Linked DNA regions of Homo sapiens: region 1 is linked to region 2. The links come from fine-mapping of genetic effects on gene expression. Tissue or cell type: whole blood. Region 2 holds a variant in brackets; the other region holds the start of a gene. All regions are shown on one strand. Distances are from middle to middle.

Evidence for each region. PIP is the estimated chance that this variant, and not a neighbour inherited with it, causes the effect.
Region 1: SETD9 starts here. The variant in region 2 is fine-mapped to the expression of SETD9 in whole blood (INTERVAL, PIP 0.95).

Annotation. Positions count from the first base shown.
Region 1 is chr5:56,903,176-56,917,024 of GRCh38, forward strand. It overlaps SETD9 (SET domain containing 9), which reads left to right and starts at 6,421. Exons shown (of 6, transcript NM_153706.4): 1 at 6,421-6,568; 2 at 7,994-8,361; 3 at 9,836-9,959; 4 at 10,699-10,814; 5 at 11,686-11,791; 6 at 13,640-13,849. The coding sequence starts at 6,471. The coding sequence ends at 13,727. RefSeq lists enhancers at 6,057-6,146, 6,937-6,986, 7,082-7,903 and silencers at 6,297-6,506, 6,687-6,896.
Region 2 is chr5:56,852,727-56,869,061 of GRCh38, forward strand. MAP3K1 (mitogen-activated protein kinase kinase kinase 1) reads left to right here. Exons shown (of 20, transcript NM_005921.2): 2 at 3,874-4,024; 3 at 6,989-7,189; 4 at 12,008-12,208; 5 at 12,614-12,730; 6 at 13,103-13,251. It also overlaps the pseudogene LOC124901214. Among named protein-coding and RNA genes, the nearest start is that of MAP3K1, 45 kb to the left of the region's middle. The variant C/T (reference allele first, on the strand shown) is at 7,924.

The DNA.
Region 1 (13,849 bases), 49 kb after region 2:
TAGACTACATAGCTATTCAAATAGCCTACAGAATATCCACTATCTCTAACTATTATCTCTCTTCCAGCACAGAATTGTGAAATCAAAGTTGTGCCTGCTACTTCCTCTGTCCCCCTGACACCCAATAAACACACACACACACACACCACATTTTCCTTCTCTGTGTTGGGTCATTCCCATCAACACACAAATATGCTACGAGATCTTTTATCTTACTGAATTATTCTCTGCCTTTGGCTCCATTTCTCTTCTTCTCTTTCCATAAAATTTACTGAAAGAGACACACACACTTGTTTCCCATTCCTCACCTCACATTTGCTTCTCAACGCACTCAAACACACTCAAACCTATCACCAAAACTGCTTTTGACCAAGTTATGAGGGTTCTGCATTTATTGACAGGTGACTTCATGGTCACTGCTCAATCTATGTTCTTTGCCATCCCCCTTTTCTTCCTAGGTGATCTCATCCAGGGCTCTGGCTAAAGACTCTATCACCAGCTATGGCTTCGGAGCTCCAGATGTGACAATATTCAACTAGATACTTGACATTTCTTGGAGGCATTTCAAAACTTCACCTTCCCATATCGAATCCATTGGCAAGTCCTGTGAGTTCCTCCAAAATAGAATCCTAATCCATCCACCCTCTCCATCTCCACAGTTACCATTCTAGTCTAAGCTACCATCATCTCTGCCTAAACTACTGTATTCACCTCCTAATTGGCCTTACCGGTGTGGTGATTGCCCACCTTTTCACCACATAATATCCAAAGTGATCTTTTTAAAACATGAATCAGATCCTATTACCCTCCTGCTTAAAACCCTCCAGTGGCTTCCCATTACACTAAGAATCCCAACTCCTCACCAGGACCTACAGGACTTGGCATCTTCTCTTTCTCCCTGACTTCATCTTTCACTTTTTCTTACTTACCCTGTTCCATAACCTTATTTTCCCTGCTTGAACATGTGAAGCTCCTCCCCACCCATGCTTGTCCATTTGCATTGCAATAAGGAACACCTGAGACTGAATAATTTATAAAGAAAAGAGGTTTATTTTGCCTCACAGTTCTGCCAACTGTATGAGAAGTGTGGCGCTGGAGCATCTGCTCCTGGTAAGCCCTCAGGAAGCTTCCAATCATAGCCGAAGGCAAAGGGGGAGCTGGTGTATCACATACAGAGAGAGGGAGCAAGGGAGAGAGGAGATGCCAGGCTCTTTTCAACAACCAGCTCTCGCATGAACTCACACAGCAAGAACTCACTCATTGAGGTGAGGACAGCACCAGGCCATAGGTGAGGGATCTGCCCTCATGACCCAAACACCTCCCACTAGGCACATCTCCAACACTGGAGGTCACATTTTAACATGAGATTTGGAGGGATAAAAACATCCAAACCATATCACTACCTCAGTGCCTTTGCATTTCCCATTGGGAGAATCTCCCCGTGGATATTTTCAAGTTCGTTGCCTTCTTATTCAGGTCTCAGCCATTCATGTCATCACCCTATCGAAAATTGATACCCCTAATCCCACACCATGTGACCCACATAAAGAGAGTGGGGTCCCAGCAGGAAACAGATGACACACACAAATTAAGACATTTGAAAATAATTGTGTAACAGCATGGACAGAATGAAGGGAAACCACAAGGATAGTACACAGAACTGTGGAGTTGGCAATAATAGAGTGCTGTTACCATCCATAGGCTTGAATGAAACCCGGAAACACATAAGACTACATGGAGAGGACCTTAGGTTGGAATACAGCCAGTACACAGAGACCAGCACCTCACTCTCCTCTCTTCTTGCAGTTTCCTGCCAGTGCTCTCCACTGGTTGAATCCACTTGGAAGCAGGAAGATGAGGGACCTTGTTGATGTGCAAGCCAGTCAATCCCCCAGGGTGTGGACAGTGGATCTGGACAGGCTACATAAGATATCCAGCCCACTCTCTTCTCATTATCCTGCCTTGTTTTCTTTATTGCATTTATCACTGTCTGACATTATTTATGTGTTTACTTAGTATCTGTCTCCTGCACTAGAGCTCGGGACATAATAGAAGTTCAATAAATTATTTAAAAATCAAGTTAATCTCATTTTGAACTCTGGAAGTTACAATCTGTCCAGGCATACATGCCTTATTTATAATATTTAGGACACTGATGTTAAAGATGATTTTACCAGCCAGGTGCAGTGCCTCACGTCTGTAATCTCAGCACTTTGGGAGGCCAAGGCAGGAGGACCGATTGAGCTCAGGAGTTCAAGACAAGCCTGGGCAACATAGTGAGACCCCATCTCTACAAAATTAAAAATTAAAAAATTAGCCAGGCATGGTGGTGCATGCCTGTAATCCCAGCTACTTGGGGAGAATAAGGAGGGAGGATTGCTTGAACCCAAGAGTTTGGAGGCTGCAGTGAGCTATACCCTGTCTCAAAAAAGAACATTTTTCCTACACAGTAGTTTTGTGATTTATAGCATAAATGGGTTTTAAATGGAAAACACAGCACATACATTCTTATATTCAATTGGGTAGAGTATTTGGGGAAACTGGAAACAACAGGAAGTGGGAAAAAGAGTCAGAAGAAGAGGGTAATTTTGGATAGCAGCATATCTCCATGCCCATCGTGGCCAATCTTTTGCTTGCTATCTATGATATATTATAAAACTGTCTGTCAAATTGTCATTCTTCATTCATCTGTATTTAAAAGTTATGTAAATCAATAAAGACAGATGATTTAAAAGACACTATGAACCAATGACCTACTTAATATTTATAGAACCCTAAACCCAACAACTACAGAATATACACTCCTTTCAACTGAACACGGTATATTCACCAAGATAGAGTGCATGCTGGGACACAAAACAAGTCAATAAATTTAAAAGAATTGAAATCATTCATGTTTTCTGACACAACAGAATTAAACTAAACACCAGTTACAATAAGATATCTAGAAATCCCAAATATTTGGAAATTAAAAACACATTTCTAAATATTTCATGGATTAAAAACATAAATAACAAAGAAATTTTAAAAATATTTTGTACTGAATGATAATGAAAATACAACATATCAAAATTCCTGAGATTTGGCTACAGTAATGTTTGGAAGGATAGTTATAACTTTAGATGCTTCTATAGAAATGAAGGAAAGACCAAAATCAGTGACCTAATATTCTATTCTAAGAAACTAGAAAAAGAAGAGAAAAATAAACTACTTTATGTTTAAGTAGAAAACATAAAATAATAAAGATAAGAATATGACTGGTCACGGTGACTTATGCCTGTAATTCCAATTATTTGGAAGGCATAGGCAGTTGGGTCACTTGGGGACCAGTTCAGGCAACACAGTGAGACCCCATCACTAAAAATAAAAAAAGAGAGAAAAAAGATAAGAACAGAGGTCAACAAAATAAAAAATAAGCAGGGAAAAGTAATAAAGCCAAAAGCTGTTTCTTTGAAAAGATTGACAAACCCTCAATTACAATGATGAAGAAGAGAACACAAATCACCAAAATCAGGAACAAAAATGGGCTATTACAACAGATCATACAGACATTAAAAGGTTAGTAAGACAGTATTTATAAACAACTTTATACCAAGATATTTGGCAACTTAGACAAAATGAACAAATTCCATAAAAATATAACTTACCAAACAACACAAGATGAAACGGACATTATGAATAGCCCTATATCTTTAAAATAAGTTGAATTTATTATCAAAGAAAATTACAAGCCCAGATGTTTTCACAGGCAAATTCTATCTAAAAAATTTTAAAACATACTTCAAAATAAATGTGGGATGACAATAGCATATATTAAAACCTACAGGATCTGACCAAAGAGGTACTCATAACTGAGTAGTTATGTCAGAAATCCAAGGACGGTCAACATTTGACAATGTGTCATCATTCACTACATGAATAAATGAATAGAAACTATATGGTCATCTCAATAAGCAGAGAAAAGCATTTGATATTTATCATTCATTTAAAATTTAAAACAATAAAAATTTTTGGAAAGTCAAAAATAGAACTTTAAAAAACTTCATAAAGTATACATACCTACTAGAAAACTACAGTAAATATTAAACTTGAAGGCAAAACCTCAAAAATAGAAGAATGCAGTAGACTTAAACCAATATGGGTAGATCTTCAAGATGTATTTTTGAGGAAATCAAATAAGTTGTGGATCCTTATAATATTTTAACAATACTCACACAAAATACTATGTATTTTCTATAAAAACATACGCGGGTATGTAAATACATAAAAATAAAACTGGCAGAAAACACACCCGTCTGATAACTTCTGAGAAGCGCCAAGTACCAGGATTGGTGGAAGTACAAGGTACGGTGTTTGGTTAAGGGTGACTTGAGCTTTAGCTACCATGTTTCTATTTGTATAACTTTAGATGCTTCCATTAGAAAAGAAGAAAAGATTAAAATTAGTGACCTAATAACCTACTTTAAGAAACTAGAAAAAGAAGGTTTTCATTAATTACTTAGCTAACCAAAATTTAATTTTAATACCATAAATATAAAAAAACTGTAAAAATATACAAAAACTGATTTTTTTCTTTTTTTAGACAAGTACATTACCATAGGTAAAGATTAAACTAGTTCTTTTGGGTTCTTTGTTAAGTTTGGAGACTATAAAGAAACTTTCTTGTATGCCACTTATTAATACATCCTGGAACTGAATTGACTCCATTTAGCAAGTCAGGTAAATCTAGATTATGCCAAATTATCAAACAAACACAGAGTCTGAGAGAAAGCCTCTAGAGTTTGCTAACATTCTATATGATATGAACGAAATAGAGACATTGGTAGATACTCTTTCTCTTTATTTCTTTCAGAATAGAACAAATTAGTCCCGCAGCTACTGGCGATTGGCTGAATTTTTTTTTTTTTTGAGACGGGATCTCACTCTGTCACCCAGGCTGGAGTGCAGTGGCGGATCTCGGCTCCCTGCAACCTCCGTCTCTCAGGTTCAAGCGATTCTTCTGCCTCAGCCTCCTGAGTAGCTGGGACTACAGGCACGTGCCACCAACGCTCGGCTAATTTTTGTATTTGTTCTTTTTTAGTAAAGACGGGGTTTCGCCATGTTGGCCAGATTGGTCCCGAACTCCTGACCTCAGGGGATCCACCCGCCTCGGCCTCCCAAAGTGCTGGGATTACAGGCGTGAGCCACTGCGCCCGGCCTTGGCTGAGTTTTTATTAGATCTGAGCCGTTCAATTTCAATAGTTTAGGATCCAACCTCACTCTCAGGCAAAGAATAGAGGAAATGATACCAACGTATTTATCTGTCAATAAACACTTGGTGATTTGAATATGGTTAAGGGATTCCTGTAGTTTGCCCCCCTTAAAACTGAACTTTGTCCAAACCTGTTCTAAATATGTGTGTGCGTGTGCATGCATCTGGGTGTTGGGGAGGAGCGGTCGTAAAGTTCCTTTTAAATTTCACCTATGGGGGACTACTTCCCACCTCATCCTATGAAGTCAACATTAGCCTAAATACCAAAGCCAGATTAAGACACTACAAGAAAACTACGAAACAATATCTCTCACGAACACAGATGCAGAACTTCTAGACAAAACGTTTCCAAATTGAAGCGAAGACCATATTAAAAGGACAAAAGCACCTCAGTGGTTGCTTGGGGACTGGGGGAGGGGCTGGATTACTATCTTGGCTGTGGTGTCGAAAACCTATCAAATTGTTCACTTTAAATATGTGCAGTTTATTGTATCCCAACCATTCCTCAACAAAGCTGTTTTTCAGAAACATTTGTCCATGTAGTTTTGCCTTTGAATGGTTGGGTCAATGAAGAGAAAAACGAGTGAAAACAGGGAATCATGACACTTTGTTTTTTTACGTGTAAATATTCGCAAAACGCCCAAACTGGTAACTTTGGGAACACGGGTTCACGCAGAAGAAGGGCTGCTGTCTGGGGAGGACTGAAACTCGGGTTCCCGAAGTCGGGCTGCTCTGGGGCCACGGAGAGAAGGGGAGAGAACGTCGAGGAAGAGGCAGAGCTCAAGTGGACGGAGGATGGAACACAGAGCGCGGCCGGGACAAAGGGGCAGGCCAGACAGCCGTGACAGAGAAACTAGGCGGTCCGCTCCTGGGACGCGGTCTCGGGGGCGGGTTCGCCCCTGAGGCCCGGTGACCCTTCGCCCGCAACCAGGGCTAGCGCTTGTGTGCGCCCACGGAAGCACCCGAGCGACCGGAGAAAGAAAAAGTGGTCAAGGGGACCTCCTTCCAGCTCTACGCGCCTCTCATTCAGAGAGGTGAGGTCAGGAAAGGGGAAGGACGAAGCCCCAGAGCAACAGAAGTCAGGCGGTGCCAGGAACACTGAGAGCGGAGCCAGGGGAAGGCGGCCGAGCGCGGCCCCCTCTCCTCCCGGGCCGGGGCGGGCCCGAGGCCTCGATCCGCCTTCCCCGCGCCGTCCTGGTCACGGCCCCGCGGGGCAGCCATGCCTGGCCGTCTGCTGCGGGGCCTGTGGCAGCGATGGCGCCGTTACAAGTACCGCTTCGTTCCCTGGATCGCACTGAACCTAAGCCACAACCCGAGGTGAGAGGGCGGGACGGCAGAACGAGGGGCACCTGCCTTCGGTTCCCAGACGCCACCACGGCGGCGGGACGCAAAGCGGAGAGCCTGAGGCTGACTGCCGGCCTGAGATGGGCGGGCCCGGGTGGGCAGGGACTGAGGTGGGCGGGCCGGGTGGGCGGGGACTGAGGCCTCGGAGGGGTTTAAGGAACGCGGGCCAGAGGCGGGCGGGGCCGAGGTTGGTGGAGTCCGAGGCCCGCTGGAAGCCTGAAGTGGGCGGTGGCTTCAGGTGGGCGGGGCCTATGGCCTCTTTCCCAGTGTCCGCTGCGCTGCCGGGCCCGCGAGGCCGAGCTCGCCAGCCGGATGTGTCGCCTGTTCTTCCCTGTTGCGTTCGGCACTGACTGGGGAGCTTGTATCTGGGCAAAAATGGAAACTTTTTAAAAAGACTGCCCTTACCGCGTGAGAGTGCGTGGCTTTTTCTCCACCAGGGGTTAATTAGGTGCTTGAACTTCCTCAGAAAAGCCAAGCCAGGGTTTATTTTCATAGTTCATACAAGTACTTCACGTGGTTAAAGAAGCCCATCCCGGCTGTGAGAATAGCGTGCAGTAGCTCGCGCGTTAAGAACGGGCAGAACGCCACTCAAAAGCACGTCGGGATGGTGGGTTTCGGATTGGGGTGAGTCCCGCCGGCGTTATTAAGGGCGCACCAGTGATCAGCTCAACACCGTGCTCACCAAAGAGGCCGACCGGGCCTCCCTGAAGTCAGTGTCCGACAAATAGGGAAACAAAGCGGTTTCCGGAAGGTTGCATGCTAGGGAAACAGGAGATCAGTTGTATCATGACTCGGAACCGTGAGGCGGGAATTACAACCTTTTTGTTCAAGTAAAAATAATGCAGTTAGTACAAAAAGATAATGATTATGGAAATAAGAGGTGCAGTCATTGAAGACGTTAGTCGTCCTGGAGGGAGTGTCACAAAGTATACGATGTTGAATTTGTCTTTGAAACTACAAGGCCATTTTTAAAAAGCCATTGAATGTGAGGTCATTCATTCTCATTGTGATGACATTCAGCTTGGCTGTTGGGTGTAGTACGGGAAAGAGCTGAACTTCGTTTCTGCCTCTGGCTCTCCCACTTACTGGCTTTGGGACCTTGAACAAGTTCCCTAACAATTTTGCTTTCCTTGTCTGCAAAAATGGAATAATGTAAGGACCCCACAGCATGTGGTATAGAATGGGCCTTTCATAAGTACTGACTACTTGGGTGGGAAGTGTTGGGAGTTAGCTAACTAGAACTCCCTCAAACAATTCTTTTCTGAACTTAGTTTCCAGCCCTCCACACACATGAGAATAAGCTTATAGTTCCTTAAGGCCAGGAACCCAGAAGTTATGCAGGTAAGTTTGGCTTTTATCAGTTGAAGGGTAGTGAATAGAAACTTTTCCCATTTTCAGGACCCTCCGATATGTTCCAGAGGAATCCAAAGACAAAGTTATCTCAGATGAAGATGTCCTAGGAACATTACTGAAAGTTTTCCAGGCTCTATTCTTAAATGATTTCAATAAACAATCAGAAATCTTGTCTATGCTTCCAGAATCTGTTAAATCAAAATATCAAGACCTACTGGCAGTTGAACATCAAGGGGTGAAACTGCTTGAAAACAGACATCAACAGCAAAGTACCTTTAAACCAGAAGAAATTCTTTACAAGACTTTGGGTTTCAGTGTTGCCCAAGCAACTAGCTCATTGATTTCTGCTGGAAAAGGTGTCTTCGTTACTAAAGGATTGGTACCAAAAGGCGCAGTCGTATCTATGTATCCTGGTAACAGCACGATTAATATTATACTTTGCCAAGCTTCTTACGTATTGATAAACATAAGTTCAGTAACATACCCAGCCTTGCAATCCTTAGAGTAAGGGATTAAATTGGAAACTCGAGTTTCCATAGATTTTTGCAATTCTAATTCGGAAATTAACTGTTTGTAAATTGTTTTGTGTTAGAAAGTATCCTGGAGTATTTGTTGGGATAAATGCACTTTTTCTTTCAAGGAAAGCTTTCCTGTCAACGTTTAAATTTAGAACATAGTATGACCCACTTTGACAAATTACTTAAAAAGCACTAGAGAAACATGTCAGTTTGGTTTAATTGATAGCTAAGGATAAAAATGGTATGGATAGGCTCACGCCGGTAATCCCAGCACTTTGGGAGGCCGAGGCGGGCAGATCGCGAGGGGTTTGAGACCAGTCTGGCCAACATAGTGAAACCCTGTCTCTACTGAAAATACAAGAAATTAGCCAGGTGTGGTGGTGTGCACCTGTAATCCCAGCTATTCAGGAGGTTGAGGCAGGAGAATGGCGTGAACCCGGGAGGCGGAGGTTGCAGTGAGCCGAGATTGTGCCATTGCGCTCCAGCCTGGGTGACAGTGCTAGGCTCCATCTCAAAAAAAAGAAAAAAAAAAAGCGTACGGATCAAAACATAAAAGACAACATTTAAACCCATAAGTCACCGAATGAAGACCTTCCTGCCCTTTCTACACTTGGAAAGTAAGGCAATTTCTTGGCACAAGATCATTAACTAGAATGCTAAATAGACTACGTTATGTGTTAAACTAACATTATATTATTTGGTATAGTGGAAAGTGTGTGTGTGAATATTTGAGTCAGATAGACCCAGGTTTTTAAAAATTCATTCTCCTGTTTTCTAATTTTACATCCCCAAACAAGGGAGTTTCAGTTTCCTGCTGTACGAGTAATCTAATTTTGTAAAGACTAAATAGAATAAATAAATTAATACTAAAAGAAGTTTAATAAATAGATTAACATGCCTGGAACATAGGAAGCACTCGGTAAATATTTTCTCATTTCGTCTTTTGCCAGTGAAAGGAGAAACAGCCTTAATGTCAGACTCATCTATTCCCATATGTGTCTACATTATTTAATTATTAGCAAAATAAATTTCTTCAAACTCTTTAGATGTTAAATCACATTCTACTTAAATATATATGTGTGTGTGTATATATATACACATATACATATAAATGTGTATATGTATATATATGACTTTGTAAAACTGAGCCTAAAATGTGATGTTCATATTATCATTAACCAAGATAGCCATATTCTGTTTTGCTGTGTGGATGAGTTGGTTCTGTGCTCCATCTGCTATTGGGCGTTCACGCTTTAAGAGGGAGAAAGTAACTAAAGAGAATGTGATTATATTCCAAAGAAGGGTTCTTATCGCAGTGTTTATGATTTTTCATGTTGTTATCATATTTCTTTGTCTTGTTGTGTAATAGGTACAGTATATCAGAAGTATGAGCCGATCTTTTTCCAGTCCATTGGAAATCCGTTTATTTTTAGATGCCTGGATGGGGTACTCATTGATGGGAATGACAAAGGGATATCAAAAGTTGTGTACAGGTAAGTGATGCCCATGTTCAAATTTAATTATAGGAGACAGAACCGCACTTACCACAATGATTATGACTAATAGCATTTGTACTTTATTTATTTTTTATATAAAGAGATGGGGTCTTGCTATGTTGTCCAGGCTGGTTTTGAACTCCTGGCCTCAAGCGACCCTCCCATCTCGGCCTTCCAAAGTGCTGGGATTACAGGCTTGAGCCACCACACCCAGCTCAGCATTTATGCTTCATTTTATTATTTTTTTTACTTTTTTTTTTTTTTGAGACAGAGTCTTGCTCTGTCGCCCAGGCTGGAGTGCAACAGTGCGGTCTCTGCTCACTGCAACCTCTGCCTCCCGGGTTCAAGTGATTTTCCTGCCTCAGCCTCCCAAGTAGCTGGGATTACAGGTGTGCACCACCAGGCCCAGATAATTTTTGTATTTTTAGTAGAGTTGGGGTTTCACCATGTTGGCCAGGCTGGTCTCGAACTCTAGACCTCAAGTGATCTGCCTGCCTCAGCCTCCCAAAGTATTGGGATTACAGGCGTGAGCCACTGCGCCTGGCCAGCATTTATACTTTGAATAAAATTCTGTTTAGATAGCTGCTGTGTAACAACTCAGTTGCCCTACTGATTATACTAAAGTCTTTTTTTTTTTTTTTTAAGAAAAAATGCACTGGTGTAATTCTAGGGTTTTGTATTTTAGGATTCTATTTTAAGATACAGATCCATTAGCTAATGCTTTCACTTGTTTCAGATCTTGCAATGGGAGGGATCGACTCGGCCCTTTAAAAATGAGTGATAGTACATGGCTAACGTCAGAAATTCATAACCCTCTGGCTGTGGGACAGTATGTCAACAATTGTTCCAATGGTAAGAAGGCATCATGGGGCTGTGAGATGAGATATATCAATGGCTAATTCTACTCCTTTGTCATATGACTGAGTGCCAAGGGCAGTTGAGTATAACATATAATAAGCTAGTCAAGTCCTTAAGCAACTCTCACTTTTGGGGGATGATATTAGAGAGAATTAGGGGAAATCTTGATATACATTATTTAGAATTGTTTAATTTACTATTTTTCTTCTGATTTTGCAGTGAATATAGGCAATTGATAACTCCCCTTTGATCATTATTATTTTAGCATTTTAAAAATAGAAATTATTATGTCAGTGCTTCAATATAGCCTTATAGATTAATGGCTAGACTAGTATCTGCTTTCTGTTGCTAAGTTTGTGAGTCCCTATCTATATCTTCTTTAGGAGTTGACTTTCCCATAGGTAAAAGTTTGATTGTTTGAATACATTTAACATGGGCTTTGGCGTTAGTGAGAAACGAAGTCCAAGCCTGACTCTTTTATTAGTATTTAACCTTTAACATTTCTGAGCCTCTATTTCCTGATATATAAAAAGTAAACAATAAAACATACATATATGTTTATTATGTATGTTGGTAGATATTATCTAAACATATGTTATTATATATGTTGTTTATGCAAAAAGTAATAAAACATGTTTTATATATGTCTTTTTGAATATTTTATTTTATATATTTATGATTTACCATATATATCTGCAAATATATATACGTAAATAAACTCTGACAGTACCTGGAACATAGTAGTAATTATTTTGATCATGTTTTGATAATTTAGAAAAACAGACATTGAGTGTCATAATTCAATTCTGTTTTCCATGACCTTGTATAATGGCTCTTTTTCTAAAAATGATGTGCTTGTTCCTAGACAGAGCAGCTAATGTCTGTTATCAGGAATTTGATGTGCCTGCAGTTTTCCCTATAGAACTGAAGCAGTATCTTCCAAACATTGCCTACAGCTATGACAAACAAAGGTTCGTTTGCTAAAAGAGCATTTCATATCTTCTGCTTATGCTGTACTTAAAAAAATATAGAAGAAAAAGCTATGTAGAATTTGGGGTAAAATTTTTTTTTTAGTGAAAAATTATAACTCAGATTTTTATGTTCACACCTTAACGTGTTAATGTAGGCTTATTTGAAATTTAAAATTTTCCTTTAAACTAGCTCATTCTGTTTATTTTTACCCATTTTTATTCTATGGCAATACTTCATAAGTATCCACCTTAAAGTTTTTTCAAATAATTCTGTTGTTTTTCCTACCTACAAAATCTTCAAATATATCTTTACTTTAATCATTTATAATATCATGTTCTCTACCTTATAAGAAAGCATCCAATTGAAGAAAGAGGCCAAATTACACTATGATTCCTTTGCCAATTTCACTATTAGGTTCTTAATAATGAAACTAAATAAAAAAGGACTGTATTCAGAAGACACATATTTTAACATAGCATTTATTTCCTGTTCATTCAGTGGAAAGTCTACTGAGAATATTCAAATAACAATTTTAAAATATAGGTAATTCTGGAGAGCTAAGAGTTCTTTCTTAACAGTGCTGTAGGAAGATACAATCTTTGTATTATTTTGTTGAGTTGCTAGCAAACTTTATTTTATATAGGACCTATTAAATTGTCCTTCTAAGATGAATGACATTTAAAACATGAACTATTATTTATACTTAAAACTTGAGGCCAGACACGGTACCTCAAGCCTGTAATCTCAGCACTTTGGGAGGCCAAGGTGGGTGGATTGCTTGAGCACAGGAATTCGAAACCAGCCCAGACAACATGACAAAACCCCTTCTCTACAAAAAATACAAAAATTAGCTGGGTGTGGTGGTGTGTACCTGTAGTCCCAGCTACTTGGGAAGCTGAGGTGGGAGGATCCTTGACTTGGGAGGTGTATGTTGCATTGAGCTGAGATGGCACCACTGCACTGCAGCCTGGGTGACAGAGCCAGATCCTGTCCCAAAACAGGAAAAAAACAAAAACCAAAAACTTGATAACTTTTGCTTCTCTGCATGTGTATGTTTGTGTGTTTAACTATTAGCTTTTCTTAGCCATATACTCCGGGGCATGATGTTATTAGAACTTTGAATGTATATATGTAACAATATCTAGGCTGGGTGCGGTGGCTCATGCCTGTAATCCCAGCACTTTGGGAGGCCGAGGCGGGCGGATCACAAGGTCAGGAGTTTGAGAACAGCCTGACCAACATGGTGAAACCTCATCTCTACTAAAAATACAAAAATTAGTCAGGCGTGGTGGCACGCACCTGTAATCCCAGCTACTCAGGAGGCTGAGGCAGGAGAATCGCTTGAACCCGGGAGGCAGAGGTTGCAGTGAGCCAAGGTCACACCACTGCACACCAGCCTGGGTGACAGAGTGAGATTCCATCTCAAAAAAAACAAACAATATTTTATGATGTCCAGAAAAAAGCATTTTTTTAAAACTCCAACTAATTTTAAGTAATGTTTTCATTTTTCAGGATATAAGATACAAATGAATGCAAGAAAAACTATAATGTCATTTTAAAATCCTTTTTGTGATACTAGTTTTGGGGGCCTAAACTTAGAAACAATGTTTTCAGAAGAAGTAGTCAGTTGTATAAACATTGATTTGTGATTTTTTAAATGATATAGATATACTCTTTAGAATACCTGCATCAGGAATAAGAACTATTTCCTCATGGAAATCAAATGCATAAACTAAAATGGAAGGAACCTGAGTAAAGTTACCTCTATAAAAGCCATCTTGGTTATATTAAAAATATGAGCTTATATTTGTTAATGCTCTACCTTTTGTATATCTTTTTGTTTTCAGCCCACTTCGATGTGTTGTTCTTGTCGCACTTAGGGACATCAATCAAGGAGAAGAGCTTTTTTCAAACTACTACACAATTGTCAGCTAACTCTGTGAATCAGAAATTATTAGGTTTTCTACTCAGCTATTAATTCTAAGTGTTTTTTGTTAATCACTTCTCTGAGTTCTACCTGTAAAACAAATATTTTGAGACTTAATTGGAATAGGAAT
Region 2 (16,335 bases):
GGCAAAAATAACTCCCCGAAACATTCACGTTTAACCAACATGAGTTGGAGATGGCTCTCATCTCCCAGTGACTTCACAGCTATCTGTTTAGATTAGCTTTGGTTAAAAAAAGATTTTTTTCCTGCTATGGCTGTGATATCTTAATTGGATGATAAATCACTGCTATATACATACATACATACACACACACACTCATCTAGTAAAAATGAAAACCCTATATATGCCTGGCTTATGGAAGATTATATGTTAGGATTATAACAAAAACAATACAAGTATGTAAAAAAATTTTTCACAGTTTGGTTCTGTTTCAGAGAGAAATTAAACAGAGTAGATGTGATTTATTCGTGGCAAATACAATAGGATTTACTATATATTTCATTGATTCAAAGATCCCAGTGGTTGTAAGTTGTACCATTATTTTATATACTATGAAGGAAATAACACCTGCCAGTTAAATTATAATAACTTTTGATTGCAAGAGGCATTCATATTTCAGATATTAAAATGTGAAAAAATACACATTTTAAAATTAATGACATGTAATTATTACAAAGAGACTAGGAAAAACACTTTGGTTTATATTTGCAGATTAATTTAGGAACAGTGAAAATTGTTCTGAACAACATCTAAATTGCAAATTTAGTCTTAATTAAATACAGAATTATAAAAAAAGTTAATAAGAATAGTCATTAAAATTTAAAACTGGGAAGGCTGTAGGACTGCCAGAGTTAATAAGTGATCATTCACTTAATATATGTTCATACTTATTATGAGCCAGACATGCTTAGATGTTAGGTGTATAGATGGCGATAACACGTGGTCCCCTCACTCATGGAGCTTACAGTTCATAAGAGAGGAACAGTTTGCAAACTGCATTAACCATGTTAAAGGAAAAATACAAGTGCTGTGAAAGAATGGAACTGGGAGTTCTTAATTGAAATTGGGAAAGTCTCTGAGGAGTTGAGGAAAATCTAGAGAGTGGGTAGAAATTAGGTAAAAAGTAGACAGAGAAGGAAGCAGCCTGTCCAGAAGCCCTGAGTAGGAAAGATCTTGGGGTTATTGAGGCAGTGAAGAAGGGGGGTTGCAGGTCTGATGACAGGAATTGAGGTGAGACCACGAGGTGCAGGGCCACTTAGGTTGGGCTAAACATTTTGGATTTTAGTCTAAGCCCGGGGGGAACCACTAGAGCATTTTAATGGAGGAAGTAACCCTGGCTGCACTGTGAAATCTGGGTAAGATTCAAAGTTAAAGAAGCCTCGTTAGGAGCCTGTTGCTAGTTCAGAGCAGGTTTAAGAGCAGCTTGACCTGGATGGGCGTGTGAATGGAAGACATATTTTTTAGAAGATTATTTGACAATATTATCAAAAGTCTTCATTTGTGTACATTTTTAACCCAGCATTTCCATTTCTAGGTGTTTATTCTAAAGAAATAATTTAGGCCAAATGTGGTGTAATCCCAGCACTTTGGGAGGCCGAGGTGGGTGGATCACCTGAGGTCAGGAGTTCGAGACCAGCCTGACCAACATGGTGAAACCTCATCTCTACTAAAAACACAAAATTAGCCAGGCGTGGTGGCACATGCCTGTAATACTAGCTACTTGGAAGGCTGAGGCAGGAGAATCACTTGAACCTGGGAGGCGGAGGTTGCCAGTGAGCCTATTGCACCATTGCACTCCAGTCTGGGCAACAAGAGCTAAACTCCATCTCAAAAAAAAAAAAAAAAAAGAAAGAAAAAAGAAAAAAATAATCTCATAGTCCTTAAACATAAATAAGGTAAAACGAAATTTAAAAAAGAATCTCAGATGTGTGTAAAAGTTCAGCTACTAGAATGCTCATCCCTATTATTTATGATAAAAGAAATTGGTCTAAAAGATGACAGTATTTTCAAACAAGTGGAAAGGAAAGAGACACATTAGACTTTAAGGAGGCCATGCCATCCAGAAAGATTTGTTTAGACAAGGAACATCCTTTGTGTGTTTGACTCAGGGCCAGGAACAGAAACTGAAAATCCATAGCAGAGAAGAGATACTCCTGAAACAGATTTGGGGGAAGAGAGATAGCTAGGACCAGAGGAAAGACTATCAAGCACCTTGGTCTAGGAGTGCAGGAGTTTCTGGTATAAAAATGCACTGCAGTTCCACTGTGAGGCTTATTTTTTGGAACTAGCCTGGGAACCAAACCACCTCTTGCAACATTGTTACTGGAGGGGGAAAGCGCTTTTAATACTAAAGACTTGGAAGTGAATTTTTATTATGCAGTCACCACATAAATTCAGTTGCCTACAAAGCTGAGCCTCCTGGAATACCAACTGAGCAGGATGGACTTTTTTGGAAGACACTTTATCCCCTGTGTTCTTCACCCCTACCTCTCTTTCTCTGCCTTCCTCTCCCTCCTCCTTTTTCTCCTCCTCCTTTCTTCTCTGCCTTCTTCCCTTCTCTCCATCCCCCCTTCCTCTTTCCTTCTTTCTCCTCCCTCCCTCTCTTACTTTCTTCTACACATCCCCTAATATTTATATTTTATAATCAGCATAAAAAGCAGCCAAGCACATATAAGTAAATTAGATAATCCTCCTTTTTTCATACTTTTTGAAAGTCTCATATTGCTTCTATATAACAGTATTTGTGTGTGTATGTGTGTGTAAGGAAATATTTTACGCTGTGGTCTTAATGCCTATTTGCAAGTTTCAAACCAAATGTTATGTATTCTTTGTATTTCTAAAAATGTCTAGGCCAGTTGCTGATACAAAGATGTTTAATATGTTGCCTTCTACTTTCCTCACAGTCTTGATGCTTCAGTGAAACGGGTTAACCGTTTCCTTTCTAGTGAATATTTTTTTTTAAGTAGTTTCTTCTTCCTTTGGCTGATTCTCTGAAGATCGTACTTCATAGTTGTGATTAGCTGGAAAATTCCTAGAGGAGTTTGAATTTGTCTTTGTAGTAAACTTGAGGTTCTTGTTTTTGGTATTTCCTTGAGTATTTCCTTTTCCTATCAGTGTAGAAAAACTGTTCTCTAGCTTTAAAGACTTTTCAAAATAGTTACTGAAATTAGCTTAGTATTTTTAAAGTTGTTACTAATCCCAAGGTGCAGTTGCTTTAACTGCATCCTTATAAATCAGGTTTTCAAATCTATGCATATCGTGTATGCATGTATGCTCATGTGGATATGGGTATATTTTAAAATTAGTGATTTTCGTGAGCTTGATGCTTTGCCTGTTAGGCTTTGTAGAGTTAATTCTCAAACGTTCTTAGTTTAGAGATTGTTTTATTCTGGTAAATCCACACCATTTTATGGAGTAAAGATCAAATGTTTGTACTGGATAATTTTTATTCTTTATAGAGTACCCCAAGTGCTTTGTTATGAAGTCACTGTTCTATGAAAATAAAAATTTAATCATGTAGGCTATGAAAAATTGTTTTGGGGTCATAGATGATGTAGTTAAGTTTCACTTCACTTATTAAATATTTATTGAGCTTATTTCAGATAAATCAGCATATCCACCAGATTCTATCTGTATTGACTTAATTTATTGGAAATCCTGGGATAAAAGTGTAGTAATACACCCTTCTAAATATTTGTTATTTGGGTGGTAGAATTAAAAACAATGCAGTCTTAGTGAATATATTTGTTAATATAGTGCTTAATGTCTTGGGATTCATTTTGTTAACTACAGTGGAACATAGGTCTGCATGATATATGTCAGTAGTATATAATTCAGAATCTTTTCAAGCTTTAAGTCATTTGGGGTTTTTAGCAGTTATCTTTTTTATTACATGTCCGTTGGAAGTATAAAATAGAACCATCCATTCTGTTTGTTCTTGGAAATTATTTTTCATATATACATTTCTCATTTTATTTGTTTCTGCCTGCATTTTAGTCGTGAGATGGAGAATAAAGAAACTCTCAAAGGGTTGCACAAGATGGATGATCGTCCAGAGGAACGAATGATCAGGGAGAAACTGAAGGCAACCTGTATGCCAGCCTGGAAGCACGAATGGTTGGAAAGGAGAAATAGGCGAGGGCCTGTGGTAAGTGGCTATGGGTTACCAGTTATAAGGAAGAAAGCATAGGAGGAAATGGAAAAGTAAGCATAAATAGATCCTCTTGTAAGCTTTTCTTCTTCATTTTAAATGTAGTAGTTTTCTTTACTTGATATTGTGGTCATTTGGAAGAAACCATAATTAAAACTGTGCTCATTAAACAACTTAAACTATTCTGGGAACTTAACTGTTGTGTTTGGTGGAGGGGTAAATGCTTAAACCAAGACTGCCCTCTCATGTCAGTATCTAAAATCCTTTCATTGGAGTTTTATACTGTACTTGTAAATTTTAAAAAGAATTTTTCCAGTTTATTTTAGATGTTTTATCTCTAAGACAGGATCCAAGGATCTTAATTTCAGAAATCTTCTAGGAAAGAAAACATTTAATTGCAGTAATTCATAAGTGTAATGATTGGGTTTTCACATGCATGCATAAGATGTGCGTTTCTCCAACTTTGTTACAGTGTCAGCATGTTATCCTCATTTGACATGAAAAAATGTTTAATAGACCTATGGGGATTAAGATAAATTAAAAATGTGTGGGGTTTGATGAAAGAAAATCTAGAGTCCTAGATTTTAAAAAGCAGGGATACTCTGTCCTTTGCTATAGGTATAAGAATATATATTCTTATAAGAATACCATCATGAAATGTGTGTCTTCATTCTTACAAAGGAAGAAGTATTACAGTATCCTAGCACTAATCTCTCTCAGCAAGTTTTTATTTTGTTCTTTTAAAACAGATATGGCAACTTAAAATTCATCTAAGCTTTGACAAGGGTCTAAATACACCCCTGCCAAGTGATTGTCTGCCCTACATTCATCCCATATGCCTATTTAAGTTTACATTTAAATTAATTAGATGTAAATAAAAGTAAAAATTTAGTTCCTCAGTCTCACCAACTACATTTCAAATGCTCAGTAACCACATGTGGCCAATGGCTACCTTTTAGGCAGTGCAGTTTTAGCACATTTTCACTGCCTCAGAAAGCTCTCTTAGATGTGTAGTACTGACTCGTGTCTGACTTAAATAACTCAATAATCCCTGTGGCTTTCGATATCCTCATCACTGAGCTGCAGTCTGTCAGGAATATTTTACCCACTGGTTCTCATTCTAACCGATGGAATTATACAGAATAAATCTAATTGTTCCTTTCCATACCAGCACTTGGTAAGTTATTATGGGCCCGTGAGTCCTTGTCTTTACAGCTAAGTTTCTACATTTCTTCCATTTATTACTCACGTGAGGTGGTATGGTGGGAACCCCTCACCATTTTAGCTATTCGTGCCAGAAGGTGAATATGAAGAAATTAAGGATTTATCTTAGAGAAGAGAAAGTGCTATTGAAACATCTTGTAGAATGTTGGCAGTTAAAAGGGCATATTACTACTCAATCAATATAAAGAACTTTTGAACAAGCAGAGCCATCTGAAGTTTGAATGTGCTGCTTTCTGAGCTCCTTTAGATGGAGGTGTTCAAACAGCCTAAATCTTTTGAGAATACCGTAGGGCATAAATCACAACTTTTTAAAAATGAGCCAGCTATTTGTTCTTTATTATACATGAACTAAGAATATCCAGTTCTCTAAAACAAAATTTTGGTTTTTATACTGTTCACTTTCTAGCAAGTACCAAAGTACCTTGTCTGTATATAAGACATGAGTGAAGAGGGAGGAGATGTGTGGAATAAGATGCATAACACATAGTCCTTAAGCTTAATTATGCCACCCTACATTTTATGATTTACGGATTTCGTATTATCCTTAGGAAGTTTACTGTTTACTTGGGAGGTCTGATTTTGTTTGTTTTTATACTTTAAGTAAGTTGTGTCAAATCATTCTTGAAACATAAAGGGTAAATATCTCCAAATGGGAAAATTAGACTTATACATAATAAATAGAGTAATACATGAAATATCACAAAGCAACTTGTGACTAGGTGCCAAATGTGTGGGATGGGCAGAAGAGCAATAGGGACTTAGGAAAGAGAAGGAATGTCTTGCTGGTAGACTTCAGGGAAGTTTCATAAAAGGAAGAATTTTAACTCAGCGTAGAAAGATGGGTAAATTTTCCTCATGTGAAGGTGTACTGCCTGGGGTGCTGCAGGCTGGAGATGAGTATTAAAATAGGAGGAGAGTGAGTGAAAGCACAGGAGGAGGAAGGGTCAGGCAAGTTTGGTGAACACAGCAACTGGCTATAGAACAGGAGCAGTGGGAGAAAGTCCAGAAAGGTCTGCTGAGCTTCAGTTGTACAAAGCTGTGGAGTTTGGCCTTTGGTCATGGCTAGATTAGGTCTGAAAGCCTTAATTAAAAAAAAAAAAAAAAAAAGGCAGGTCTTGTAAACTGCATTTCTGCTTGAGAAATTGATCTTTAAACTTCTAGTCTCTTTTGGTTTTCTGAGATACACATCTAACCTATTATTGTAATATAACATTGTAAAGAAACACACACACAAAGCAGGGAAAATGATTGCATAGTGATCAAACTATTTGAAATTATGCCCAGTGTTGTTTCAAGGTCCTACATTTTGTAAAAACAAATAAAAACGTACCTAGATCTTTGATCTAGTAGTTGAATAAGTTGACTGTAGAAGTTATGAGTGCTTATTTTTCACATTTGTTTAATCACCTTTGATTGTTGCTTTTGAGTGTTAAATGAGTTAGGGTATATAATAACAAATAATACCATTTCTACAGTTTTGTATGCATTACAAAATTGTAAGGGAGGAGGTTGCGTTTTAACTAGTGTTAAATCCTAAATGACTGAAATTTGTGCAGGTAAAAATAATCTTTTACATTAATAGCTTAAAGTAATAATAAAAGTTGATATATTGTCTGGTATACTGGTATAATATTTCATAACAAAAACTCATTAAGTGTATTTCCTAGTCTATGATATTTACATTTACTTACCTTTTATATTTTTAAGTAATCAAAATATTGGAATACTTTGATTCAGGTGGTAAAACCAATCCCAGTTAAAGGAGATGGATCTGAAATGAATCACTTAGCAGCTGAGTCTCCAGGAGAGGTCCAGGCAAGTGCGGCTTCACCAGCTTCCAAAGGCCGACGCAGTCCTTCTCCTGGCAACTCCCCATCAGGTCGCACAGTGAAATCAGAATCTCCAGGAGTAAGGAGAAAAAGAGTTTCCCCAGTGCCTGTAAGTTAATGTTACAACAAATATGTTAGTTTTTATAATTTTTAGCTTCATTTATAACAAAGAAAAGACTGGCCAGCCATCTGTTAGAACATCAGTTTTCAAAATATGATCTGCAGACCCCTGAGGATGGGGGGGGTGGTTCCTGAGACCCTTTCTGGGGTCTATTAGGTCAAAACTAATTTTGTGATAAAACTGGGATGTTGTTTGCCTCTTTCCCTGCATTGATATTTGCAGTGGTGGGTAAAGCTACTGGTGCCTTTTCCCAATTTAAGGCTACAACTGTAGAAACTATATTCATTATTGCTATGTATCAGCCATTAAAGAAAAAAATGCCAGTTACACTTGATAATGCCTTTGACAAGGAAATATAAATTAATTTTATTAAATCTTGACTCTTAGTAAATACGTGCCTTTGTAATATTGTGTGTGATGAAATGGGATGCATGCATAAAGCACTTCTACATACCAAAATCCAGTAGTTTCTAAAGGAGAAGTATTTGTGCGGTTGTTAGAGTTGCAAGCTGAACTAGTTATTTCTTTCATGGAACATGAAATGAGTGACCAACAAACTATGATTATTTAGATTTGGGTATTTGGAAGACATTTTTCTTAAGGTGAATTAAATGAGACTGTCACTTCAAGGAAAGCAACTTAAGGCTGGGAGCGGTGGCTCACATCTATAATCCCACCACTTTGGGAGGGCGAAGTGGGCGGATCACCTGAGGTCAGGAGTT[C/T]GAGACCAGCTTGGCCAACATGGTGAAACCTCATCTCTACTAAAAATACAGAAATTAGCCAGGCATGGTGGCAGATGCCTGTAATCCCAGCTACTCGGGGGGCTGAGGCAGGAGAATCGCTTGAACCCAGGAGGCAGAGGTTGCAGTGAGCCTAGATTACACCATTGCACTCCAGCCTGGGCGACAACAGCGAAACTCCATCTCAAAAAAAAAAGAAAAAAAGAAAAGCAACTTAAGTATTTTTTCACTAGTGTTAAAAGTTGAGATGTCGAAACAAAAATTAGAATTTTAGAAAGCTACTATCCACCACTATGAGCTTGACAGCCTCCCAGTGCTTAGACTTTTCTGATAAGATTGGTGATAACAAATGTGATTATTTTCATGCTGTATAATGAAATATGTGAACATTTGGAAGATCTGCGTAACTTAAGGAACCAATATTTTCCACGTGATCAGTGTATGATAATAACAAAATTATTCATAGGTAAAAGATACATTCAAAGTGTAAAATACACCATTTGGATTTTTAATGTGCCAGTAGGAAAAGTTTGTTGATGTGGTTTCAGATTCCACATTACAACTGCCTTTAAGAAACCATTTTTTGAGCTTTGGTATAGTACCAAAGAATATTCATCATTATTTGAACAGGCAGTGGCTCACACCTATAATCCTAGCACTTTGGGAGGCCAAGGTGGGCGGATCACTGGAGGTCAGGAGTTCAAGATCAGCCTGGCCAACGTGGTGAAACCCCGTCTCTACTAAAAATACAAAAATTAGCCAGGCGTGGTGGCAGGCACCTGTAATCCCAGCTACTTTGGAGGCTGAGGCAGAGAGAATGGCTTGAACCCGGGAGGCAGAGGTTGCAGTGAGCCGAGATCACGCCACTGCTCTCCAGCCTGGGCGACAGAGTGAGACTCCTAAAAAAAAAAAAAAAAAAAAAAGGGGCTATTAAAATACTCCTTCCTTTTACATCTACGTATCTGCATGAGGCCAAACTTTCTTTCATATACTTTAATCAAAACATCATATCACAGCAGATTGAATGCAGAAGCAGCTATGAGAATCTTAGCTGTCTTGTATATTAAGCTAAACATCAAAGAAATTTGCAAAAAGATAGGTGGTAAATTCATGTGAGAGAGAGACTTCTAGTAGTGGAAATGCATGTTAAGACTCACTTTCTAACTTTGAAGAACAAATGATTGAATGGAAAAATGGTTGAGATAGTGACCACAAGAGGAGTTTGGGTTTTTTTTTAAGATCTGGAGTTATTAAGGTACATAAATTCGTTAAAAAGTACATTTAAAGCAAAAACATTTTACAGTAAAACCTGATGCCCAACAGTAGTTGTTGGCTCTATGTTAAAATACCTTTAAATTAACTATTAATTTTTGTTAACTTAAAACAATAATCAGTTACTAGCTCACGAATCTGCAGATTGGGCAGGGCTCAGCAGGGGTGGCTTATCTCTGTTCCTTGTGACATTCTCTGAAGATGAAAGGTCCAAGACTGCTTCTTCACTCACATGCCTATTGCTTCAGCTGGGATACTGGAACACTTGGGGGGCTGTTGGCATCTCTTCCTCCTAGCACGAAGACTGGGTTGCAAAGAGTATTGTTTCGAGAGGCAAGTCTCAACATGCAGGCTCTTCTCAAGCCTCCACTTCATTGTGTTTGCTAATGCCTTATTGTCCAAAGCTAGTTGCATGCCCAAACCCAGAATTGATGTGATAGGGAACTACACAAGAATGTAAATACTGGGAGGTATGGTTCATGGGGGCCATCAAAATGAAAGTTTACAACAAGTATAAACAGAACTGTCTTCCTTCCCCACACCCCACCCCCAAAACCCACTTTGGGCATATATGCTAGACAAAGTTACCCCTCATTCTTTTTAACAGTTACATAGCCTTTCATTAGCTGGATAAATCATGGTTTATTTAATGAATGATATACTAATGAACATTTATAATCTTTTTAACCTTTTGTTACTGAAAACAGTGCTTCAAAAGTATTTTTATACGTATGTCATCTTGTACATCTGTGAGCATGTATCTGTGAACATATCCATAGGCTGGATACCTAGCAGGTCAAAATGACGTGTGCATGCATAATTGGCTTTTTTTGTTTGTTTTTACTTTTTAGTAACTGCTTTTTTAAAAATAATGGCTTTATTGATGTGTAATTCATCTACTGTACAATTCACCTGTTTAGATTGTACAATTCAGTGTTTTATAGTATATTCACAGGGTTGTGTAGCCATTATTACGGTCGGTTTTTAAACATCTTTATTACCCCAATAAGATATCCTAGACCTATTAGCAGTATTAAAGCAAAATAGGTAGTAGGTAGCCTGGGGTTGTTTCTACACCTGGAAATGAAACCAACCTTTAGCCAATCACAAACAGCCAGCCAGCCTATTTGTTATATAACTAGGGACTTTGCATAATGCCATGCCCAAGTAAGGCAAACACCTAGCTGTAGCCAATCAGCTGATTCCTTTGCTTTGCTTTGCTTTGTGTTCAGCCTGTAAAAGCTGGCTGTTCAAGGTGCTAGATCAGAGATCTCTGAACTTGCGGTTTTGAGTACCACTTGGTTCATGAATCATTCTTTGCTCAAATAAACTCTGTTAAATTTATTTTGTCTAAAGTTTTCCATTTAACAACAGTCTCTCCCAACCCTAGGCAACCACTAATCTATTTTCTCTATATATATAATTTGCCTATTCTGGACATTTCATATAAATGGGATCACTTAATAGGTGATCTTTTATGACTGGCTTCTTTCACTTAGTATCATATTTTCAAGGTTCATCCATGCTATAGCATGTGTTAGTACTCCATTTTTAATTGCAGAGCAATATTGTATGGATATACCACATTTTGTTTATCTATTAGTTGATGGACATTTGAGCTGCTCCTGTTTGGTGGCTATTATGAATAATGCTACTGTGAACATTTGTGTACAAGTTTTCAGGTGGACATATATTCTCATTTCTCTTGAGTTTATACCTAGGAATGGAATTGCTGGGTAATACGTTTAACATTTTGAGGAACTGCTATACTGTTTTCCAAACCAGCTGCACATTTTACATTCTGCCAGCACTATATGAGAATTCTAATTGCTTTGTGGTCTTGCCAACATTTATTACCCTTAACTATTTAATTAGGGATCCAAAAAACTGGAATTTCCACTGGACATTGATGGAAAGACCAAGTTCTAGGAAAGTTAGTATAGTGAGAGTGTTATATATTATCCTCACCCTAGGAGCGTTTTTGTCAGCTTCCACTAATTTGTTTTTATTGAGGAAGAGTCTGCAGAGTGTATGTTGGGAGGCATTCCATGGCAGCGTTTGTAAATTTCCTGTTAAAGAAGATTAATAAAGCCTTCAATAGATCCCAGGAAGTTGGATTTTTAGTTTTTACTACTAGACACAGCATTCTGCCTGCTTATGATATATACTTTCTATGCTTTTTGTTTTGGTTTATATTAGATGTTTCAAAGAACTCAAATGTTAATAGAATAATTTATAAAATTACCACATGGTTGTCTCTCTCAGCCAGATATTTATCAACATTTATGGGGATGACTGAGATTTTAAAAGTTCACCTGAGATGAGTATGTCAGACAAAATCATTTAGCCTTTGTTCCATAATATTTTAAATCTGACATTTTTTCAGACTATAATCTGCCACATGACTGTCTTGTATGATCTTCTTTGGATAATAGTTTCTTTTTTTTTTTTTTTTTGAGATGGAGCCTCGCTCTGTTGCCCAGGCTGGAGTGCAGTGGCACAATCTCGGCTTACTGCAACCTCCATCCCAGGTTCAAGTGATTCTCCTGCCTCAGCCTCAGAGTAGCTGGGATTACAGGCATGTGCCATCACACCCAGCTGATTTTTTGTATTTTTAGTAGAGATGGGTTTCACCATGTTAACCCGGATGGTCTGGATCTCCTGACCTCATGATCCGCCCTCCTCGGCCTCCCAAAGTGCTGGGATTACAGGCGTGAGCCACCATGCCTGACCGGATAATAGTTTCTTAATTAAGAAATGAGAAACGTACCTAATAAAAAAAAATGTTGTGAAGTTTCAGAGTGGCAGAATCACACCACCCCGAAGAGCCCCTTCACCAGATGGCTTCTCACCATATAGCCCTGAGGAAACAAACCGCCGTGTTAACAAAGTGATGCGGGCCAGACTGTACTTACTGCAGCAGATAGGGCCTAACTCTTTCCTGATTGGAGGAGACAGCCCAGACAATAAATACCGGGTGTTTATTGGGCCTCAGGTAGGATTCGTCACCATTTTATACTTTATTAGTAGTAGTATATGGTACTACCTCAAATTTATATACTATAATGTTCTTAAATTTAGATCAATTAATTCCCTATAGTAAACAAAGTTAAACTTAAAATGTATTTTAGGCTAATATTTTTCTTTAATGTATTTATGAGGTTTTACTATCTTAATATACCATAGAATAGAAATTTGATCTATTTAATAAATTCAGTGAAAATGAAAGATTAAATCATGGAAATAGCTGTAGATTTTTCTTATATACAAAGATAATGAAGAATATGAATTAATAGAAACTTTAGTATAAAAAGTTGGAAATATTGTAAAAGTGATAAATTTAGAAGTTCTTGTGAACCACAGATGTATTAACCTATAGGTTTTCTTTTTAACTCTTTAGAACTGCAGCTGTGCACGTGGAACATTCTGTATTCATCTGCTATTTGTGATGCTCCGGGTGTTTCAACTAGAACCTTCAGACCCAATGTTATGGAGAAAAACTTTAAAGAATTTTGAGGTAGTTTTTAATAAATGCTTAGAGTAAAATTGTTAGCATATTCTTAGGATATATTCTTAAAATTTATCCTTCACTAAATTTAGGCAGTGACCATTTTAAAGGTGTGAAGGTATGTAAGAATTAGTTGATGCTTATAAATAGTTCTCATGAGATATTTACTAAACTTTTTCTTCTAGCTTGAAAAAAACAAACACTGACCTGCTGTAAGAATGTTGTCCTTAGTAAAAACTATAATGTGTTCTTATTTTTGAAGCTCTTAAATCAACTTTATGAAAAACATGCAAATTAAAGATAAATAATTCAGCCTCTAGAACTCTTCATATGTATAATTATGGCACAAATATCATTGTTACTGTCTTTTTCCAATGTTAGGTTGAGAGTTTGTTCCAGAAATATCACAGTAGGCGTAGCTCAAGGATCAAAGCTCCATCTCGTAACACCATCCAGAAGTTTGTTTCACGCATGTCAAATTCTCATACATTGTCATCATCTAGTACTTCTACGTCTAGTTCAGAAAACAGGTTAGTACTTTTTAAGGATTTCAAACATTAATCCAGTGTTACTTTTAATTTTAGGGGTAATTTTTTATATCTACTTGTTAAGTTGCTCTAAAATGATTTAATTATTGAATCTTGGCTTTCAAGTTAAAATCAAGGGTGAAGATACTAAAAGTTCGCTGGGCATGGTGGCTCGTGCCTGTAATCCCAGCACCTTGGGAGACTAAGGCAGAAGGATTGCTTGAGCCCAGGAGTTCAAGACCAGCCTGGGCAACATAGGGATACCCCAACTCTACAGAAGTAAAATAATTAGCTGGGAGTGGTGATACCTGTAGTCCCAGTTACTCGAGAGGCCAAGGCAGGAGGATCGCTTGAACCCAGGAGTTCAAGTCTCCAGTGACCTATGATCGCACCACTGCCTAGGTGACAGAACAAGACCCTGTCTCTTAAAAAATATGTGGGTGTGTGTATGTATGTATGTCTGTATGTATGTATGTATGTTAAAGGTCATGTGAGTGTGTGTGTGTATATAGACGTTTTGTGCTAAAAACTACAGCATTCATGTGAATCTTCTTTCTGTTCTGTATATTGCTTTATTGGTTTTAGTGTAAAAATTAGATTTTTAAAAATTAATCCACAAAGGAGTGCTGCTTCTCTTACCAGGGCACCTTCTATGTTATTCCCGAAGTGCCCAGTTTGAGAAGCATTGTTCTGAGTGGTTAAATCCTGTCTTCATCCTATTAATCTGTTAAGTATTGTAACTACCTCAAAATTCATGAAGAATGAAAAAGTGACAGGGTCGTAACAAGGGTGCAGTGAAGAGAAGAGAGGTTTTCTTCATCTGTGGAAAAAGTAAATGTTTGAAGAATTTTCTTAATTTTGATTAAATGAAATAATTTTAGAATCCTAGAGTTTTACGAGTTTTTAGACATTGAAGATTTTCTAGTTGGCATGTCTCAGTGACACAGCGATAAGTGAAGCCAAGAGGTTATGCAGCTCATTTGAGGAAAGGTATAGCCAGAACCTGGGTATCTTTGTTTTACCCCTCATCTCTTCTAAATAAAATGAAAAAAATGAGCTTTATTTCTCCAGCCTCCTGAACTCCTAGCCCCAAGCATTCCTCCCACCTCAGCGTCCCAAAGTGCTGGGATTACAAGTGTGAACCACCACACCCAGCTCCTTTTTCCTTTTGAGTGACATTTCTGTAACTTTTTACTGTGGAGAAAAATAACAGATGCTTAAAACCAAGTAGTCAAAATAGAAAGTTTCTCTCTGAGGTTAAATATATATATTTGGATTTGCATATCCATGGGGGGAATCACAAAAGTTATCTTGGTTACTGAGATTGTACTGTACATACATAGATAGATTTTTGTTTCGTATAACCACTATTTTTATATCTAAGATCAATAAAAAGAAAATACAGAGGAAATTTATCTGGAGGTCTGATTACATACAATTTTAAATGTTATGCCCAAAACAATAATAAAAGAATTAGGATAAACAAATTTAAAATTCAATTGAAAATGAAGGGCATAAAGAGAATATCCACCAAAAAAGAATTTTAAGGGGCTAAGAAACACAAAAACTGTTCAGTCAACCTAATAACCGAAGAAATGTTCATTTTTTAAAAAAAGATACCAGTTTTTATTTACCGAAATAATGAAGACTTTTTAAATGATGTAATTCAGTTATTGTAAGCATGTGCTTGATCGTATGTAAAGCCGTATAGCCTTTTGAAGAAAAAAGGAATATGGCTTTTAAAAACATTTATATTCATTGATCCAGTAAATGTTCTTCTTAAGTAAAAGTTTAATCTGAGAAATGCAAAAGCCTCACATATATCATATATGACTGTTTCTCATAGTATTATGGTGAAAAAGTAGAAACAGTTTAAATATCCAACAGCAATTGAATGATTAAATTAGCATATGCCCATGTTACAAATGTCATGTAGGCATTAAAATTATGCTTTTGGAGAACGTTGAATGGCCTGGGAAAATGTCGATAAGTAAAACCAAATCTAGGTTATAATAATATATTATGCATGAACCCAGTTTTATATAGAAAAGGTATTACAAGTATGTAAAAATCGGAAGGAATAAAAACTTCACTGGTTATTAATAGGAGGTGCTATTATGGGTAACTTTTTTTAAACTTTAAATATTTTGTGGTCCATTTGGTCTCTTTTAAAACTACTCAGCTCTGCCCTTATATCCTGAAAATAGCCAAAGACGATATATAAATGAACGGGATGGCTATGTTCAGTAAAACTGTATTTACACAAGTAGTCCACAGGCTGATTTGTTTTCCTTATAAGTTCATTACTCCCTGCTCTATACTTGTAATTTTGCTTCAGAAAAAACTATGCTAAAAAAAATCTGAAACGTCAAAAAAAAATGAGTACAAAGATGTTTGTAATGGTTTCTTTCTTTCTTTTCTCTTTTTTTAGACGGAGTCTCTCTCTGTCACCCAGGCTGGAGTGCAGTGGCGTGATCTTGGCTCACTGCAAGCTCTGCCTCCCGGGTTCATGCCATTCTCCTGCCTCAGCCTCCCGAGTAGCTGGGATTACAGGCGCCTGCCACCATGCCCAGCTAATTTTTTGTATTTTTAGTAGTGACAGGGTTTCACCATGTTAACCAGGATAGTCTCGATCTCCTGACCTCATGATCTGCCCGTCTCAGCCTCCCAAAGTGCTGGGATTACAGGCGTGAGCCACCGCGCCCGGCCGTAATGGTTTCTTAAAATGTAAAAATATGGAAACAGCTTATATGTCCAACATTAATGGATACTTAAAACAGGATCTATCTAGTCAGTGGAAAATTATGATGGCATTAAAAATTATGTGGTGGAAGCAACCCAGGTGTCCATCAATAAATGAATGGATAAAATGTGGTATATACACATAGTGGAATATTACTCAGCTTTACAAAGGAAGGAAGTGTGCTACAACATGGATGAACCTTTAGGACATTATTCTAAGCAAAATAAGCCAGTCACAAAAAGACAAATATTGTATAATTGCACTTACATGAGATACTTAGTCAAAACCATAGAGACAGAAAGTAGAATGAGCCTAGGTGGGAGGATATGTTGACCAGCCTGGGC